Linked DNA regions of Homo sapiens: region 1 is linked to region 2. A link means that fine-mapping ties the variant in region 2 to the plasma level of a protein whose gene starts in the linked region. Region 2 holds a variant in brackets. A gene starts in the other region. All regions are shown on their reverse strands. Region 1 holds the start of CLEC1A (C-type lectin domain family 1 member A). Region 2 overlaps ORM1 (orosomucoid 1).

What was found. A credible set is the group of variants that fine-mapping cannot tell apart. PIP is the posterior inclusion probability: the model's chance that the variant is causal. The UK Biobank Pharma Proteomics Project read protein levels with antibody pairs (Olink). The fine-mapping took linkage between variants from a reference panel, not from the people measured, so its PIPs are less certain.
Region 1: CLEC1A starts here. The variant in region 2 is the best candidate, but not a certain one, in a credible set for the plasma level of the CLEC1A protein (UK Biobank, PIP 0.88).

Annotation. Positions count from the first base shown.
Region 1 is chr12:10,091,894-10,106,449 of GRCh38, reverse strand. It overlaps CLEC1A (C-type lectin domain family 1 member A), which reads left to right and starts at 7,465. Exons shown (of 6, transcript NM_016511.4): 1 at 7,465-7,642. The coding sequence starts at 7,528.
Region 2 is chr9:114,324,502-114,329,668 of GRCh38, reverse strand. It overlaps ORM1 (orosomucoid 1), which reads right to left. Exons shown (of 6, transcript NM_000607.4): 4 at 4,772-4,879; 5 at 4,517-4,620; 6 at 3,190-3,377. The coding sequence ends at 3,312. Among named protein-coding and RNA genes, the nearest start is that of ORM2, 2.8 kb to the left of the region's middle. The variant A/T (reference allele first, on the strand shown) is at 3,885.

The DNA of each region.
Region 1 (14,556 bases), not on the chromosome of region 2:
GTACCAGCTTCTCTTTGTACGTCTTGTAGAATTCAGCTGTGAATCCGTCTGGTCCTGGACTTTTTTGGTTGGTGGGCTATTAATTATTGCCTCAATTTCAGAGCCTGTTATTGGTCTATTCAGAGATTCAATTTCTTCCTGGTTTAGTCTTGGGAGGGTGTATGTGTCCAGGAATGTATCCCTTTCTTCTAGATTTTCTAGTTTGTTTGCATAGAGGTGTTTATAGTATTCTCTGATGGTAGTTTGTATTTCGGTGGGATCGATGGTGATATCCGCTTTATCATTTTTTATTGCATCTATTTGATTCTTCTCTCTTTTCTTCTTTATTAGTCTTGCTAGCAGTCTATTGATTTTGTTGATCTTTTAAAAAAACCAGCTCCTGGATTCATTGATTTTTTGAAGGGTTTTTTGTGTCTCTGTCACCTTCAGTTCTGCTCTGATCTTAGTTATTTCTTGCCTTCTGCTAGCTTTTGAATGTGTTTACTCTTGCTTCTCTAGTTCTTTTAATTGTGTTGTTAGGGTGTCGATTTTAGATCTTTCCTGCTTTCTCTTGTGGGCATTTAGTGCTATAAATTTCCCTCTACACACTGCTTTGTGTCCCAGAGATTCTGGTACATTGTGTCTTTGTTCTCATTGGTTTCAAAGAACATCTTTATTTCTGCCTTCATTTCGTTATGTACCCAGGAGCCATTCAGGAGCAGGTTGTTGTTCAGTTTCCATGTAGTTGTGAGGTTTTGAGTGAGTTTCTTAATCCTGAGTTCTAATTTGATTGCACTGTGGTCTGACAGACAGTTTATTGTGATTTCTATTCTTTTACATTTGCTGAGGAGTGCTTTACTTCCAACTATGTGGTCAATTTTGGAATAAGTGCGATGTGGTGCTGAGAAGAACGTATATTCTGTTGATTTGGGTTGGAGAGTTCTGTAGATGTCTATTAGGTCTGCTTGGTGCAGAGCTGAGTTCAATTCCTGGATATTCTTGTTAACCTTCGGTCTCGTTGATCTGTCTAATATTGACAGTGGGGTGTGTGTTAAAGTCTCCCATTATTACTGTGTGGGAATCTAAGTCTCTTTGTACATCTCTAAGGACTTGCTTTATGAATCTGGGTGCTCCTGTATTGGGTGCATATATATTTAGGATAGTTAGCTCTACTTGTTGAATTGATCCCTTTACCATTATGTAATGGCCTTCTTTGTCTCTTTTGATCTTTGTTGGTTTAAAGTCTGTTTTATCAGAGACTAGGATTGCAACCCCTGCTTTTTTTTTGCTTTCCATTTCCTTGGTATATCTTCCTCCATGCCTTTATTTTGAGCTACTCCTGCTCACACTTGGTTTTCATTTGCATGAAATATTGTTTTCTACCCCTTTACCTTGAATTTATATGAGTCCTTACATGTTAGATGAGTCTCTTGAAGATGGCAGATATTTGGTTTGTAATTTTTAAAACTGATTCTGCCAATCAGTTTCTTTTAAGTGGAGCATTTAGGCCATTTATGTTCAATGTTAATATTGAGATGTGAGGTACTGTTGTACTCATATTAATTGTTACCTAGATACTTTGTGTTTTTCATTGTGTTGTTGTTTGATAGGCCTTGCGAGTTTTATGCTTTCAAGAGGTTCTATTTTGGTGCATATTGAGCTTTGTTTCAAGATTTAGAACTCCTTTTCACATTTCTTTTTTCTTTTTTTTTTTGAGACGGAGTCTCACTTTGTTGCCCAGGCTGGAGTGCAGTGGTGCGATCTTGGCTCACTGCAACCTCCAGCTCCCTGGTTCAAGCAATTCTCCTGTCTCAGCCTCCCGAGTAGCTGGGACTACAGGTGCCCACCACCATGTCTGGCTAATTTTTTATTTTCTTTTTTCTTTTTTTTGAGATGGACTTTTCCCTCTTGTTGCCCAGGCTGGAGTGCAATGGCATGGTCTTGGCTCACCACAACCTCCACCTCCTGGGTTCAAGTGATCCTCCTGCCTCAGCCTCCCAAGTAGTGGGGATTACAGGCACCCACCACCACGCCCAGCTAATTTTGTATTTTTAGTAGAAATGGGTTTTCACCATGTTGACCAGGTTGGTCTCAAACCCTTGACCTCAGGTGATCCTCCTGCCCTGGCCTCCCAAAGTGCTGGGATTATAGGCATGAGCCACCAGGCCTAGCTTATTTTTGTATTTTTAGTAGAGATGAGGTCTCACCATATTAGCCAGGCTGGTCTCGAACTCCTGACCTTGTGATCCTCCTACCTTGGCCTCCCAAAGTGCTGGGATTACAGGCATCAGCCAAAACACCCAGCCCTTTTCACATTTCTTGTAATGCTGGTTTGGTAGCACTACAAATTCTCTCAGCATTTGTTTGTCTGAAAATGACTTTATCTCTCTTTCATTTCATTTTATCTCTCTTTCATTTAGTTTTGCTGGATACAACATTCTTGACTGACAGTTACTCTGTTTAAGGCAGCTAAAGATAGAGTCCCAATTCCTTTGGGCTTATAAGGTTTCTGTTGAGAAGTCTGCTGTTAGTCTGATAGGTTTTCCTTTATAGGTGACCTGATGCTTTTTGTCTGACTGCTCTTAGATTTCTTTTCTACATGTTGACTTTAGATGGCCTGACGACTATGCCTTCGTGGTGATCTTTTTGCAATGAGTTTCTCAGGAGTTCTTTGAGCTTCCCAGATTTGGGTATCTAAATCTCCAGCAAGGCCAGGGAAGTTTTCCTCAATTATTCCTTCAAATAAGTTTTCCAAACTTTTTGTTTTCTCTTCTTCCCTCAGGAACACCAATTATTCTTAGGTTTGGCTGTTTTACATACTATCATATTTCTTGGAGACTTCATTTACTTGATTCTTTTTTCTTCATTTTTGTCTGATTGGCTTAATTTGAAAGCCTCGTCTTTGAATTCTGAAATTCTTTCTTCTACTTGTTCTAGTCTATCGTTAATACTTTCCACTGCATTTTGTAATTCCCTAAATGTGCCTTTCATTTCCAGACGTTCCTTTTTTATGATATTTAGCTCTCTAGAAAATTTTTCATTTATAATCTGAATTTTTTAAAAAAATTCTTTATGTTGGTTTTCACCTTTCTCTGGTATCTCCTTGAGTAGCTCTTATACAACATTCTGAATTTTTCATTTGGTATTTCTAAGATTTTATCTTAGTTTGGCTTCATTGCTTGAGAGCTAATGTGATCTTTTGGGAGGTGTTATAGAACCCCATTTTATCATATTAACAGAATTACTTTTCCGGTTCTTCCTCATCTGGGTAGACTATTTCTTCTAATTATTCTTAAATTTATTTTTGATTTGACTGTGTGATTTTATTTCTTATTTTCCTTCTTAAGAATTTGACTTTAATGTTTATAGTTTGTTATAGCCTAATTTGGTTCTTGGTGCTTTTAGGGGTGAAAATTCTGTATGATTTCCTTGGTTATAGAGAAACTTTGTATGATGGCTTTCTCAGATGCTAGACATAGTAGTAATGTGCTGAATGTGTGAGCAAACTTACTGTCTCTGGAAGCTTATCTCATTCCAATGTGGTATGCACTTTTAAATTTATTTACTTTGCTCCAGTATTTTATTCACTGGGTTGATGGTTCAGGCTTCAGGCCAGTAGTGGAGGTGTTCCTAGGTAGGAACCAGTTGTGGCTAAAGAAGGTGGGTAAATGCAATACCCAATGGTGGGCAGAGGTCTCAGCCTTGACAAAAGGGGCTGGGGGAGCTGTCAGGGAGACACACTGAAGTCTTATCAGGGGAAGGGTGGTAGCCACCTTAGCTCCCCTGTCAGGTCAGCTGGGAAGCTATCCATCTCCCAGACTCACATCTGTCCCAATATTCTGGCTATTCAGATCAGACAGGCCTCTCTTTTCATCTGCTGGAATGTTAGTGCTCCAAGTAGAGAACTGTGACTCTGCCTCTTATGTAAGCCTGAAACTGGAGGGTTGCTTCCCCTGTGGGGTTGCGGTCACCCTGAAGTGTTCTACAAAGTCTGTCTATGGGTGCACCCATGCTGAGCTCTTGTGGGAGAAGACCCAGCTGTGTCTGCAGTGGTGGACGAGGTTGGTAAGAAGTCCCCTTCTCCAAGATCCTTGATAAGCACCAGGGCTGTCTGACTGTTGGGACAGCTGTAGACATTCCCTGCTGAGCCCAGCACTTCAATTCTGCCTCTATTGAAAGAAACTTCCCACCAGTGGAACAATCTAATCCTTAAGACCTGCCATCTGGATTCTTTATTCACACAGGGTGTTCCCTTGATGTGGCACACTCTCCCTTTCCTTAGGAGTAGAAGTTCCTGAGAGACAGACTACTATGAGTGCTGCTGCTCCTCAGGGTCTAGCCACTCAGTGGCTCCAGACTAGTGCTGGGGGATGTCTGCTAAGGATCCAGTGATATGACCTGTCCTCCAGTTTTCCAGCAGCTGTTATCAGCACCAGGTCTGATGGGGGTGCCAGAGGCGTGACATAGACCTGTGAGATTCCTTGATTATAGATAACTTTAGTGTGTTGTCTTTCTTGAATGCTAGTTCAGGTAGTAATAAACTGGTCATGTGGATAGACTCAGGACCTCCTGGTTAGACAGGGTAGTGCAGGAAGTGGTAATAGCTGAGGTCACACAGTAGTTTTGTCCTTCTTGAGTGCAGTGTTATTCCACCTACAGATGCTGCAATGGACTGTGTTGGTAGGCTTCCAGCTACTGGGTGGCATTTGCAAAAGAGTATCAGGTGTGGTAGTAGCAGTGGGATTTGTGCTTGCCTTATGTTGCCCAGGGTAGGTAGTCTGGCTTCTCAGGTGATGGATGGGGCTATAAATCTCCCCAGGGTTTCTGTCCTTTGTATTAAGCTACCACGGTGGGTGGAGGGGCAAAGCCAGATGAGGGCTGTGTTAGGTGGGTCTGCACTCTGAGTCACCATGTGCATGGCAAGCAGCGGCCCCTTTTGGAGATGTGGTTGCACAGGGAGTGGGGAGTAGTAGGCAGCAGTAAGCCTAACCCAGATGTCACACAGTTGGCAAGGCAGATCTGGCTCCTGCAGTACTCTGCTAGCAGCAGTGAGCTAAGTTCCAGGCAGTCTGCACTCAGAGCTCACAACTGCCTGAGGCCATAAACTTTTCCCGTGGTGATAGCAACTGCTGGCGTTCAGGCCATGCCCCTCTCTGTCCACCCACACAGCTGGCACCCAGATCCTGCACTCACGGCTGCAACACATTTCCCACTCACCTTTCTGGTTCTGGCCAAGGGAGTTCATTTCACTTGAGGTTATATTGTGAATTTCAGTTGGGAGTTTTTACAATGTGCAACCCCTGGCTGAGCTAGTTGGCTGAGTTCCGTGAGGTTGTCTGTGAGGCATAAGGAATAGTTTCCCTTGGCTCATGCTGGAGACTGGGAATGCACACAAGCCTCTTCCTGCTGCTGCTCTTACTTTTATATTCATCACTGCTCTTTTAATTGGTTCCAGTGCTGGGACGGGTTAAGGCCTTCCCCCATGGCATGGACTTTCAGGTTCCCCTGTGGGGGTATGTATCCTGGAGCCAGTCTCTTCACCTCACACACCCTGGGAGCTTACAGTTTTTCACCTAGCTCATGGTGTAGGTATAACCTGCTGCTTCTTTCAAAGAGTCTGTGGATTCTTTCAGTTTTCCTGTTCAGTTCCTGTGTTGCTTCTTGGGAAAAGAGTTCACAGTGAGAAGGTTTTTTTTTTTTTTTTTTTTTTTCAGATGGAGTCTCGCTCTGTTGCCCAGGCTGGAGTGCAGTGGTGTGATCTTGGCTCACTGCAACCTCCGCCTCCCGGATTCAAGTGATTCTCCTACCTCAGCCTCCCCAGTAGCTGGTATTATAGGCACCCGCCACCACGCCCGGCTAATTTTCATATTTTCAGTAGAAACGGGGTTTTGCCATGTTGGTCAGGCTGGTCTCGAACTCCTGACCTCAGGTGATCCACCCACCTCAGCCTCCCAAAGTGCTGGGATTAAAGGCGTGACCACCATGGCTGGCCCACAGTGAGAATTTTTTACTCACTATTTTGTCCTTCCAAGTGGTAGAGTCATGCTAACACTGCCTCCAATCTGCCATCTAAAAAAAAAAAAATTCCAATTTTTAAAAAATTTAGAATAATTTGATGAACAACAAACAGCTTGAAACACATGTGAATCCACAATGTGCACTTCCTCATAGATCTTTTATATGGTCTGGCTACCCCAACTGGAGCATTCTGACACTCCTTTATATTTAGCATGCTTGATTTTGCCCACCTATCACCTAACATCTGGAAAAGTTTTGGTAGAGTAATATAAGTCTATTGTACAGATTCAGGAAGAACTTTTAGACATTATCTAAAACAATCTTCTTGTCTTTCAGTTTAGGAAATGTAGATGCAAATTGTTAATTGTCCTCCCAAAGGCACAAGGTTGTTACTGATACCTGTCTTGTTATGGTTTGAATGTGTTTCCTGCAGAATTCAGGTGTTGCCAGTGTGGTAGTATTGAGAGAGGTGGGGCCTTTAAGAGATGATTAGTCCTTGAAGTCTTCTCTCTTGAGGATGGTATTAAGGCCTTTATAAAAGACGCTACATGTAGCATTTGGCTGGCTTGACCTTCTGCTTTCTGCCACGTGAGAATACCCTTCCTCCTCTACAGAGAGTGCAGCTCTCACCTGACATCCAAACCTGCCAGTGCCTTGATCTTAGATTTCCCACCTTCTGGAATGCTGAGAAATACATTTCTATTGCTTATAATTTATCTGGTCTCAGGTATCCTGTTGTAGGTCAGCACAAACAGACTAAGATGGGAATATAATTCTAATGTACTGATTCAGGAAGAATTTTTTCACATTACCTAAAACATTTTCTTCTCAGTTTAGGAGATTTAGGCACAAATGAACTGGCTTCCCCAAACCACATGGTGGTTAGTAATAGTTTTAAAAGTTTTTACTTCCAGTAAATTGTATAATTCCTCGTGATCATAATGTACCAAATGTGCTATAAAATGTTGAATCAAGTTCAGATACTATAAGAAAGACCACTACTCTGTTCTTGGAGAAAGGAAGGGGCTAGGTCCTATAATCTCTTCTCTTTTCACAAAGACACAGAGAGGTTAAACTAAGTGACTCCCTAAAGGATGGGTAAGAAACAGGGATGTGTGTCCTTCCAAGTTATTATTATTCTGCAGACTCTGAAGGAACCACAGTGCTACACCGTGCTATTGTAAGTTCTTGCCTTCTTTACAGTGAAGTTACATGAGAAATGCAAACAGGTAAACAAAAAAGACCTGAGAAAGGCCAACTTTTTGACAACTGTTTAGACTGAGACGGCCTAAACAGAAAACACATGCTATTTCCCCTCAGCCTGACTGATTTGGCATTCAGAGTACAAGCTCACAGGAGAGGGGCTGGGCCTGTCCAGTCAGGAATTGCAGTCAGAGACTTTCCCTGCCCCTCGCTGGGAAAGAACATTAGGAATGCCTTTTAGTGCCTTGCTTCCTGAACTAGCTCACAGTAGCCCGGCGGCCCAGGGCAATCCGACCACATTTCACTCTCACCGCTGTAGGAATCCAGATGCAGGCCAAGTACAGCAGCACGAGGGACATGCTGGATGATGATGGGGACACCACCATGAGCCTGCATTCTCAAGGCTCTGCCACAACTCGGCATCCAGAGCCCCGGCGCACAGGTACCCTGTCTCCTGGAGTCCAAATAGACCACAGTCCTTGTGAAATGTGTGAGATGATCTATCCCTCCTAGAAATGGAGATATTTAGCTTGCATCTTATAATTTTATTTCCAATTACTCGCCCTGTGACATAGTAGTGATTTTTTTTTTTCAGTTATATTCAGTTCCATAATTCCCACACTTAGAGAAGGATTTTATTTCCTGGGCCACTCAGCCAATCTAAAGCTAAAATATGACTTCAGTTCTAGTGAAAAGGACTCACATGGTAATATACACAGGACTAGGTTCTAGGTCCTAAACCAGGTATGCCACTTTCCTTCTGTGTAACTTTGGATGAGTTGTTTAAGTATCCTGGTAGCATCATATTCTTTATTTATAAAATATTAACGGCCACAAACATGTATAAAGGGCTCATTATGTGCTGGCAGTGTTTTAAATACTTTAAGTATATTAATTCATATTAACTTGACTTAATATTAAATAGAAGTAATAAAACTTCCTTTACAAGGTGGTTGTGAGTACTGAGAATGATAAATTATGTAAAATATTTGAATGTCTGTCTGATCTGATATAGACTGACACAAAATTGCTGAAAGGAACACTTTAGGTTCTTAAGAAATGGAATGTTGAAAGGAATCCCACATTTTAACATTCATTCAGTGCCTGTGTTTTAATATGCCCTTTCCCTTCTGATTATATCATTGTTTTCTTCACCTTTGTAAATCTGGATATACCTTTAAAAAAAAAAAACTATCCTGTTCCTTATTTCTTTATCAAATAACTTTTAGTTTTCCTTCCTTTCTCCTACTAAACCCTCCATTCACTTTCTATTTATTTCTATTTATTAAATGACCCTCCACCTGAAACCTACTAATATGGCTTTTTTTTTTTTTAACTAAACTACCCAGTAAGCTGTTAAGGGACATTGGGGATTTCCAACCTCTTTGAAATGAAGCTAAGTGACAAAAGTAGGGATGTCAGCTTTTGTAGCCACAGGATATGTGTAATAGGATACAAAGCGTTTTCCTCCAAAAAAACTTACGAAGAGTCCATTTTTACGGCTGTGGTTTTGAGTAGCTTGTATATAACTTCATTTTCCACCTTTGACTGGAGCCAGGAACTCTGTCAAGGACTAGAGATCAGCATAATTAAGAACAGCATGTACAAATAAGTTCTGCTGAGGTTGAAGGGTGGAGAGGGAGGTGGAGCAAGATAAAACACTAGCTGCAACATCTGGGAGCTTCTTTGTAAGAAATGGATATTGAAACAGTAGAAGTGGAGATTACAAAGAATTGTCTTGGAAGAAATCATCTGGAAATAGTTATCTTAGGCAACATATATGAGATCTTGTTTTCATCTTTTTATGGTAATACAAACATTTAGGGGAATACCATCATAGAAGTATAATTATTTCTTAGATAAACATATCTGATATACCTTCGCTGATAAAAATAACAGCAGAAATCACTCAGAAATTTTCGGCAATGTGGAGGATTCAGATTCAACATAATGATGTGATACCATTAAGAGCTGGCAACTTTTATTTTTTAGAATTAATAAAAATAAATCACACACACATTCATTTAATTTCTAGACTTTTGTCAATAACAATTGACGTAACAACTATGTTTGTGTTTAAAAATGCCAAACAATTAAGATAGTAAAAATGCCAAACAATTAAGATAGTGAAAATGAAAAACAACAACCTCATACATTTTTCACAAACTTATGTTTGGGGTCATGTTATCCTAGTACTGAGGATATAATGTCCAATGTGATATGGTCCCTGTTCATAAGGAAATTGAAAGTCTAATACAATTCTCAACTAAGGAGTAAGTATAATAAGGTGTTATGGCAGAAGCATGTACAGTACAGCCGAGAGCTTAACCAAGCTCTCGGCTTAATTTTTACCTAATTAAGTAGAGGAGTTCAGGAAAGGCTTAACAGAAGGAGCAACTGTGGAGTTGAGTTAATTTTAACATCTTCCACATAATAAGGAATCGGGAGTGAGGGTGTTTGAGAGGCTGGGGACACTATAGACAGAGAGACGTATGAAGGGAAAGTCATGAAGGTTTTCAGTAGCTTTGTATTTTTAGAGAACTATAAGCAATATGTATGGCGTAGGTGTAGAGTTGGAGGAGGGAAACTTAGCAAAGGGGTAAGTCTGGCAAGTTAAGGAGGGATTTTAGGGCATGCTGATCTAGTTTAATTCTATTCAATAGTTAAAATGAAGTCAATGCAGGATTTAGATAGGGAGAAACAAAATTTTGCATTTTGGAAAGACCTTCCTGGCTGCAATGGAAATGATAAGTTGAAGGTATATGAAACTGCATGTGCTGATACCAAATTTTTCCACTAGTCCAGTACAAGGGTAGAAAAACCTGAACTGAGGCAGTATAGTAAAAATAAGGAAAAAGAATCAGATATGAAAGATGTCGAGGTGTTGGAGTTTAGATAATCGGTGATTGGTTACATGTGAGGAGACAAGGAAAGGGACTTCGGTGGTAGGTTGACTAGGTTCTGTTTGATGTAATGTAGATGGTGCTGATGTTAACTGAGACAGAAACTATAGAAGGGACAGGAAAGATGATGAATTGAGTTTGAGTTTAAGGGGTCTGCAGAAGGAGGGACATGCATTTGGAGCTGTCCAAAGACACCCGTATATGCAGGATGTGGGTTGGGCTACATAGACATGTGGGAATTACTGGCATAGTAATTAAATAAATAAAGTAAATGAGGTACCTAAGTCATTAAGTCAAATAAATGGCTAGTAACTAAAATGTATGAGAGTGAGTGAGATCACTGAGGGAAGGAATGTAAAATGAAAACATGAATGAACAGAAGAGAGTGTCAAGGAGATAATCTGAGGGAATATCAACACCTGAGGAGCAAGAAGAATGAAAGATTCCAAAAGGAGCTACCAGGGATGAATAGCAGAGAGTGGTAGAAGCAGGAGTCTTGGAGAGAGACAACAAGGGCATCAAGAGACAATAAATTCAAGAGTAATGGAAAATTAGAGTAATGGAAGGACAATAAATTCAAGAGTTTTAGAAAAGTCAATGATAATGACTGTGAGTTTTAAAAACAACAAATAACAAATACTGCAGAGAGTTTAAGCGAAAGGAAGACTAAAATGATTATTTAACAATTTATCAATAAGGAGGAAAATATTTAGTTTTGACAGCAGTGGTTTGAAAAGGAACTGATGGTTACATAATAAAATAAACAATTTAAGTCATTTTCTCTTTTTCTTTCTCTCTTTTTTTTTGAAGATAAAATGGGTTATTGCTGAGGTATTACAGCATTGGGTGACAGATTTTAAGAATGATTTTTTAAGATGTGGGAAATTCTAACTCAATTGTAGATTGAAAATAAGTTCAGGGAGAGAACTTCACATTAACAGTACAGTAAGAGGAGAGAGGATGAAATAACTGACAGGCTGAGATTCCTGCCAGAGACTAAATTTTATCCTATCAAAAGAATATGAAAAATTACTTTGGTTAAATAATTTTAAAAAATTTAATAATAAATTCAAGTTCCTCTTTTCCCTTGTTCACATTAATTACAGTACTATTGAATTTCCCAGCGTTTTAGTTTTATTTCCTCAATTACAGCATAAATCCCTCATCACAGTCATGACATAAATCGCTGTTAACTGATTCAACAACTCTTTAAATCAAACCTACTAATGACAAGACATTATGGGATGTACTAGAGGAGCCTCTTTTTCAGGTGCTTAGAGAAGTGGAAGGAATACTCTAAATCAATAGTTGTAGTAAATGTCATTTAGTGCTATTAAATCAATGTTGGAGGCCGCAGAAGCAATATAGGAATGAATGAGTTACTGATTGAGTTTAGTTTTGCGAGTTCCCAGAGGAAGTGACATGATCTGGACCCATGAGGCTAAGAAGTAAAATGGGATCCTATTAGGAGGAGCCTGATACAGTACACTAAGAAACTGACTAAAACAGAAAGAGCCTTGGGAAACTTCTTCCTATGGAAGAGAGGAAGTATGATTAAATTTATGCTTTCAGAATTCATCTTGCTGGCAGAGTGGACATTTCATAATGTAGAAGGGAAAAGTTGCAAGCTGCTGTCATTCTATGATTCCAGATGCACTGCCATGTATAAATATTGATCTGAGATGTGTTGGGAGGATAGGAAGATGATTGAAAATGTCCAGCTCTGGAATCAGTCAGCTTGGGTAGCTCTGTGCAACTTAGTGACTTAGGCAACTTAAGTGACTCCTTGGTAATTCAATTTTTGTAAAGGTTGCTTCCAGTGAAATAATGTGTATCTAGAACACACTTATGGTTACTATTAATAACTATTTCTCTCTCTCTCTTTTTCAATACTCTCCATCCAATCATTCTATATAAAGACATGGAGAAACACAATCCTGGGGAGTTACTAATAGTTCATTAGTAACTATTGCTAATAGTAGCTGTGTGTTCCTGAATAAGCTGTCTAAACCTGCTAGGCCTCAGTTCCCTACCTGTAAAATGAGATAATAATATCTACCTTATAGGGGGTGTTTGTGAGGCTAGATGAGAACATTCATATAAGACATTTTTCTCAGTAACTCAAGAAATTTGAGCAATTATCATTAATGGTAATGTTGTTTTTGAATTATATTTCAGTAAATAATATCTGTTGATGGGGATATAAAATTGAGTCACCTAACTTTTACTGAAGATGAAAAATATAATTAAATTTCTAAATACTGTGAATTAGAACCTCAATGATATTCTAGAAATAGCTCATATGTTTTTAGATGTATACTCTTTTCAAATAATAGGAAGGATAACACAGATTTTCATTTAGAGAGTATGAAAATAGCAATATTTGAAATAGATTCATAAGAGAAAAGAAACCTGCATTTACATGAACACAGAAAAGCAGACTCAACCCGTGAACTCAGATTCCCATGAGGAAGTTTCCTATGTGCCATATGTGAGGATTAAGGAAACAAAGACGTTTACATTTCAAAATACAAAGGGATGAAAAAGTGCTTTCTGAAATATTATGTACATTGCCACCAGTTTTGCCCCCATGTCTCTGTGATTCCTGACTGGCTCATGGAAAAGTGTGCAGAGTATAGCGTTAAACATAATTTAATCCTAGCTCTGCAACTAGTTTGTAACATGCACATTATTTAAACTCTCGGTGTCTTCTCCAGCTTTTAAGACCTTTTGCATTTCATAGGTATACTAATAGACTGTATATGGTAATGTCAGCTTAGTTTCTTGGGTGGAAAACAAAATTTTCCCTCTCTGATGCCTGATGAAGGGTAACTGGTTAAGTCTGACAACTCTCCACCCACAAAGTTTCATATAATTACACAGTAATTGGTATCCAAAATTTGACCCTAGCACTAAGGCCTTTTATAGTATGGTTAATACTAAGAGGATACAGGAAAGGTTTTTTTTTTTTTTCTATATATATCTTATTATTCCTAGGGATGTTTATATCATTCCTTGGCCTGTCCACACCCCTTTCTAAACATGCCTCAGGAGACAGCAAAGGGGTTCTCTTCCAAAAAATAAAACCACAATAAAGCCAAACCAAACTCAAGCGACCTCCTAGGCATCTTATTTTTGTGAAAATCTGTCTCATGTTAGGGTGAGGGTGATCCCTGGAGAGAGACTTCAGTATGATTAGGAGCACTTGGAATAAAACTGAGAAACATTAGACTCACAGTTAGAAGAAAAACATCTAGAAGGAAAAATAGTATCAAAGAAAAAGAAAAAGTGAAACTTTCAGTTTCATGGACTTTCCGTCATGGGAGCTTGGTTTCCTGGAAGATGAACTCCCTAGGATTGTGTTTCTCCATGTCTTTTATATAGAATGATTGGAAGGAGAATTTTGAAAAAGAGAGAGAGAGAAAGCGAGAGAGCAAGAGGGAGATGGGAAGAGAGAAGAAAAATTTCAAAATATGAAAATTTGATCAGAGAAAGAGGATTTCTTAGAAGAGATTTTTAAAAACTTTTTAAAGCCTGTTATACTTCTTTTATTTTTTCTGCCCTAGAGGCAATCTTAGGAAGGATCATGTATTTTTTTTCTTTTCATGAATATAATTATTATTGAAAGATGTTCTGATTTCTAAAGTCCAGGCCCTCACTTCACAGTAGGAATTTAAATTCACTCTTTTTGGTCCTTTGGGCAGAAAACAACAACTCCTATGTCCTCAATATTATGCGAGAGAAAGCAGATTTATTTTATTTTATCTTATTTTATTTCATTTCATTTCATTACTACTTTTGAGAGAAGATCTTGCTCTGTCACCCAGGCTGGAGTAGAGTGGCACGATCACGACTCACTGCAGCCTTGACCTCCCTGGCTCAAGCAATCCTCCCACCTCAGCCTTCTGAGTAGCTGCGACTACAGGTGTGTGCCACCATGGCTGATGAATTTTAAAAATTTTTTATAGAGATGGGGGTCTCACTATGTTGCTATCTTTTGTAGAGATGGGATCTCACTATGTTGCTCAGGCTGGTCTCGAACTCCTGGCCCAAAGCAATCCTCCTGCTTCAGTTGGGAGGATTCCAAAGTGATGAGATTACAGGCCTAAGCCACCGTGCCTGGCGGAAAACAGATTTATAAAGAGATAAATAAGTTGGTTGACTGTCATAGTTCTTCTCCTTTACTTCTTATTTTTAATTTCAGCCAGACAAATATTAATTATAAGAGGTCACAGGATTTAAAAAATTATTATGACTTTGAGATGCATATTAATGTAACTGTGTTTGAGTAAGGGTAGGCAGGCATATAACACAGGTATTTGTATATAATGGACCTATTCATTCATTTATTTAAATTTAATTGAGCTTATTTCAACTACTGCCCTAGGAATTGGGTTGCAATAATGGATAAATAAATATTTTCCAAGAAGGAGCTTAATTTTTCCTGGAGTAA
Region 2 (5,167 bases):
AGCCCTAGAGTATGGCTGCCCAAGGCCAAGGTGGGTGCGGGGCTGCAGCAACATTAGTAAACGTGTGAGTCCACAGATTTCCTAGAGAGGCCTCCCGCAGAGGAATCTCATGTCTTCATTCAATTCCTATCCCTCTGAGTGCCAAGACTTACTTCAGTAGGACCCAGCCACAAACCTAATGATGAAGCACCTTTGAGGGTCCCCAGGCTGGCATGGGATGTATGTTGTGGCGGGGAGAGTTGGGGTGAAGGATGCCGGGTGAAGGCAAACATGGATTCAGTTCCACTGAGTGTGGCAACAGCTATGTCAGAGCCAAAGTTCATTGGGGCCCCAACCCAGCCCTGGACGCAGGCACATTTCCAAAAAGGGACATCCAAGTTGAATGTCTATTTCCAGTAAATATACTACTCGAAGCATCTCCCAACATCTCAAACAGGAAACTGTCTCCCTGTTTTTCCCCATTCCCTGCCATCTGAGCAGGCAGCTTGCTTCTCTTTCACCAATATGCCCCCAATCCTGGAGCAGTGCCCAGCACTTCAAGGGCACTCGGTGTATACTGTGGAATGAGTGATTCCGTGGCCCATTTGCGTTCCTACCTTATGGGTCAAGTCTTTATTTGTATGAATAAATACTTTCAGAAAGTATTCTTTTTTTTTTTTTTCTCGGAGATGGAGTTTCGCCATTTTGCTCTTGTTGCCCAGGCTGGAGTGCAATGGCTCGATCTTGGCTCACCACAACCTCCCCTGCTGGTTTCAAGCAATTCTCTTGCCTCAGCCTCCCGAGTCGCTGGGATTACAGGTATGTGCTACCACGCCTGGCTAATTTTGTATTTTTAGGAGAGATGGGGTTTCTCCACGTTGGTCAGGCTGGTCTCGAACTCCCTACCTCAGGTGATCCGCCCACCTCGGCCTCCCACAGTGCTGGGATTACAAGCATGAGCCACCGCGCCTGGCCTTCCAGAGCGCCTTTCAACAGTGAACAGCAGCTGCTGTTTAGGGAGCACCAGCTGGACCCTGATTCTTACGCTAAACACTGGGCATTGTCTACTTCACACAGTCCCTGTACTAGCTCTCAGGACCCTCACTCTGCCCCCTTTTTACTGATGAGGAGAGTGAGGTTCCACTGGGCCATCTGCCCAAACTGGTTTGGGAGAGAGCCTGGGTTTGGACTCACATTAGTTTGACTCCAAAGTCCACATTCTTTGTTATGTGTGTTTTTTGCTTCCTCTACCTCCATGATTCTTTTTCTCTTGACCTCTGGTTTCTTCCTCACGTGGCTTTTCCTTCCATGTTCCCCACTTCTCGTCTCCCTTGCTTCTCCCTGCCCTGCCCATCACGACTCATTTCTGTTTCATTTTTCAGCGGATCCTCCTCAGTATGGTTGAAAATGGTGTCTTACTGAAAGTAACATTGAAATGGGGAAACTTCTTTTAGGTTCTGAGCCTTCAGTTCCAGGCCACTGTGGGACCCCAGAGGCTGTCCTGTCCACTTGCCTTCTGAGGACATCAGCTCGGTGTCCCCAGCCTCCGTGCTGTGGGCACAGCAGTGGTTTGGGTGCTGAGCAAAGGATGCTGTAGTCTTGGCCCTGTGGAGCTTGGCTGTTGGGACAGGAGGTACAAAGGGGAGTGGTGCCTGAGGACACAGGACTGGACCCTGGGGTGTCAGAGCCTCAGGCTCATGGTCTTATCACCCTGTATGGTGTACGCAGCTGCACATACGGAATAGATGGAACAACTCAGGCCCAACTTTTCTGCCACGGGAGGAGTGCTGCTTCCCTCACGTAACAAGAGGCTGTCAATCATGAGCCCCCAGGTCTGGGTGAGGCCGGCCCTTCGTGGCTTGTGCCACTGAGTGGGCTGTGCCTCGGGCTTGGCTCCACCTCAGGGCTCCACATTTGCAAGATGTCAACTGATTTCCAGGGACCAGCCTCACCCTTACGTGTTGTCTCCTTCTTCTGGGTCTCCCAGGTGAGCACCCTGAGGACACGTCCATGGAGACACCCAGCCCCTCTGGCCTGGGCCCCAAGCCCTCTGCATCACCCCAGCCCTTCCCTGCCCTGCCCTGTCCTGGCCCAGGCAACCGCCTCTTGCCTAGTTGCCCACAGCAGCCTTCACTCAGGCCTTCCTGCCTCCAGCCTGGTCCCCACAACGTGCCTCCCCCGATGGCCATGGTAATACTGGAATAAGGTCCTTGTGATAGGCACCACATGCCTGAACTCTCCCCACCCCATCCACCTTGTATTTGTCTGTTCTCACATTGCTATAAAGAACTACCTGAGACTGGGTAGTTTATGAAAAAAAGAGGTTTAATTGACTCACAGTTCCGCAGGCTTCAGAGGAAGCATGGCTGGGAGGCCTCAGGAAACTTACAATCATGGTGGAAGGCAAAGAGGAAGCAAGTCCCTTCTTCACAAGACAGCAGGAGAGACAGAGCGAAGGGGGAGGTGCTACACACTTTTAAACAATGAGACCTTGTGAGAAACAGCACCTGGGAGGTGGGGCTAAACCATTAGAAACCAGCCCCGTGATACAATCACCTCCCAGCAGGACCCGCCTCCAACACATGGGGCTGAAAATTCCATGTGAGATTCGGGTGGGGACAGAGCCAAACAATATCACACCTCCACTCCTGTTTAGGGTCTTCTGCCTCAAGGTTACTCAAATGCATCCTCTCATTTCCTTGCTTGCAGCAGAAACAGAAAAGGATTTTTTTTTATGACTAGTTGAAGTTTTATTACAATCTTGCTATTAGGAGAAAGGCCTTACAGTAGTCTCAGTTTAGAAATTCACATTTGTTTGCTTGTATTGTTTTAAATGGACACATAATGTACATATTTATGGGGAACTGTGTGATAATGTTCCCAACACAAAGAAATGGTAAATGTTTGAGGTGGTGGAAATGACCCCGATTTGATCATCACACATTGTACACAGAACAGCAGGTTGTATTATGCTCCTCATCTTTCTAGATTGGTTCAGATGCCCCTTCTAGGAAGCCTTCCCAGATTTTCGCCCTGCAGAAGAAAATGTCTTCCCACAGTGCTGGGCTCCCACAGCACTCGGTGCCTGTCATCCTCCATCCTGGCACGTGTGGGGCTCTTCCCACCAGGGACAGCGTCTTATCCAGTGCCCAGCCAGGGTTGAACTCAGGGCAGGCTTCAGAATGAATGAATGAACAAATGACTAACAGCTTAGCTGTTCCAAACACAGAAGCTTTATTGATGCAAGTGAGGGAAAAAGCTGAGGTACACATGTCGGGTTGGAGGGGCAGGATGGCCCCCAAGTCTCTGTCCTGATCCAAGGCTGTGTCCTGCTAGGATTCCCCCTCCTCCTGTTTCCTCTCCTTCTCGTGCTGCTTCTCCAGTGGCTCACACTTATCCTAGAAGGCAGCGGGGAATTGGGGTGAGGGAGAAGCAGAGGCATGGGGACAGGGTGGGAGGTCTTCCAGGGAGAGGGCAGAATGAGCTCTGGCCTGTGGAACCAGCTCAACCAGGGCTCCAACCCTGGCACTGTCACTTCCCAGCTGGGTGATCTTGGGCAAGTCATTTTCTGTCTCTGAACCTCAGCTTACTTGCCTCTACAATGGGAGCTCAGACTCTTAAGAATCACTGGCATTTACTGTGCACTTAGGACCTGCCGAGCCCTTATGCTGCAGCTCCTGAATTCCTCACAACCACCACTACTATGCAGATGATGTAACTGAGGAGCAGGGTGGCCTTGGGACCCATTCGAGGCTCCCTAGCCAGACAGTGGGGGTGCCAGGCTGTGGATCAGGTGAGCTGACTACAGTGGTTGTGTTCATAAGCCCTGTCCCAGGATCCTGGGACTGCAGATGGGGGCAGGAGGTAGTTCACACCACTGGTGGTCATCTCAGATGGCAAATGGA[A/T]GGAATTGTTTTTCTTTGAATAGTCATGGAAGTACTGCATGTATATATTTTAAAAATTGGAACCAGCTCATCGGTGCTGTGATTTCACAGGTATTGGGCACAGGGCCACACCAACGCAAGTCTTCCAAACACAGGTTTAAAGAAAAGTGTTAAGGAGCTCATTATAAAGTAATTTTCATTTGTAGCAAAAATCGGGATGGTGACTGTGGCCGTGCTGCAGTGTGGGTGACATTGAAAACCACAGTATCAATTCCCCACTGCACGGGTATTAAAAATGAGTGGGGAGTGGAGGTGGGGTGAAAGCCTGGGGTTTGGGACGCGTCTGTAGGTGGTAACTCCCCGCATTACGTCCCCTCCAATTGCCAATCCCCCAACCCCGTGGCTCACGCTGTTCCCTCCTGTTAGCTTTCAGGTCCTCCCTGGTTTCACAGGGACTTCTCCCTCCTGGGCTCTCATCCACCACCCCTGGGCCTCTGTAGAGCTCAGCTGTCCCTACAGTGAGGCAGGTGCCTAAAAGCAGAAGATCTGCCTAGCTGTGCAGCCTTGCCTGGCAGCTCTCCTGCTCTGGGCCTCTGGGGCTGCCCAAGTTGGGCCATGGACAAGGTGGGCACTGTCCAATCCCTTGCGTTTACCTTTTTCCAATCGGTGTACACGACATCTGACTTGGGAATGCGCAAGCAGTCGAGAGCTTCGTAGAACTCTCCCAGTTGCTCCTTGGTCGTCTCTGGCTTGTCAGCTGCAGGGGGAGCAAGGAGACTGACTGGGGACATGGTGGGGCCCGGCGGGAGGCCAGGGAGGGCTGGGGTTCTAGGGGCCAGCCCAGGGGTGGGTGAATGGGGGGTGAGGCCTGAGAGGGGCATGAGTTTGGGGCTGCTAAGCATGCCTACCATAGACAGACAGCCCCCAGTTCTTCTCATCGTTCACGTCAAAAGCAAGCATGTAGGTCTTGGTGTCCCTGAGGATCAGCAAGTGAGCGAAATGCTCTTGGCCTCCCACTGGAAGAGAAAAGGAGCCTCTGGGTGAGAACATGGGATGGCACAATGGTGTCTGTCTTACAGGTGAGGAGGCCTAGGTGTGTCAGTGGCCACACAGCCCATCAGTGAAGGCCCAGGGCTCCTTTGGGCCACCGTGTGCCCAGCCCCTGCTGCATGCCCAGCTCCACGCCAAGCACTTTCTGTACATGAGATCTCAGGAGCCTCACACAGACCGTGGCTGTCAGGGCCTTTCTCCGTTTTACAGATGAGGAAAATGAGGCCCAGAGAGGAGGCTCGGGATGCTAAATG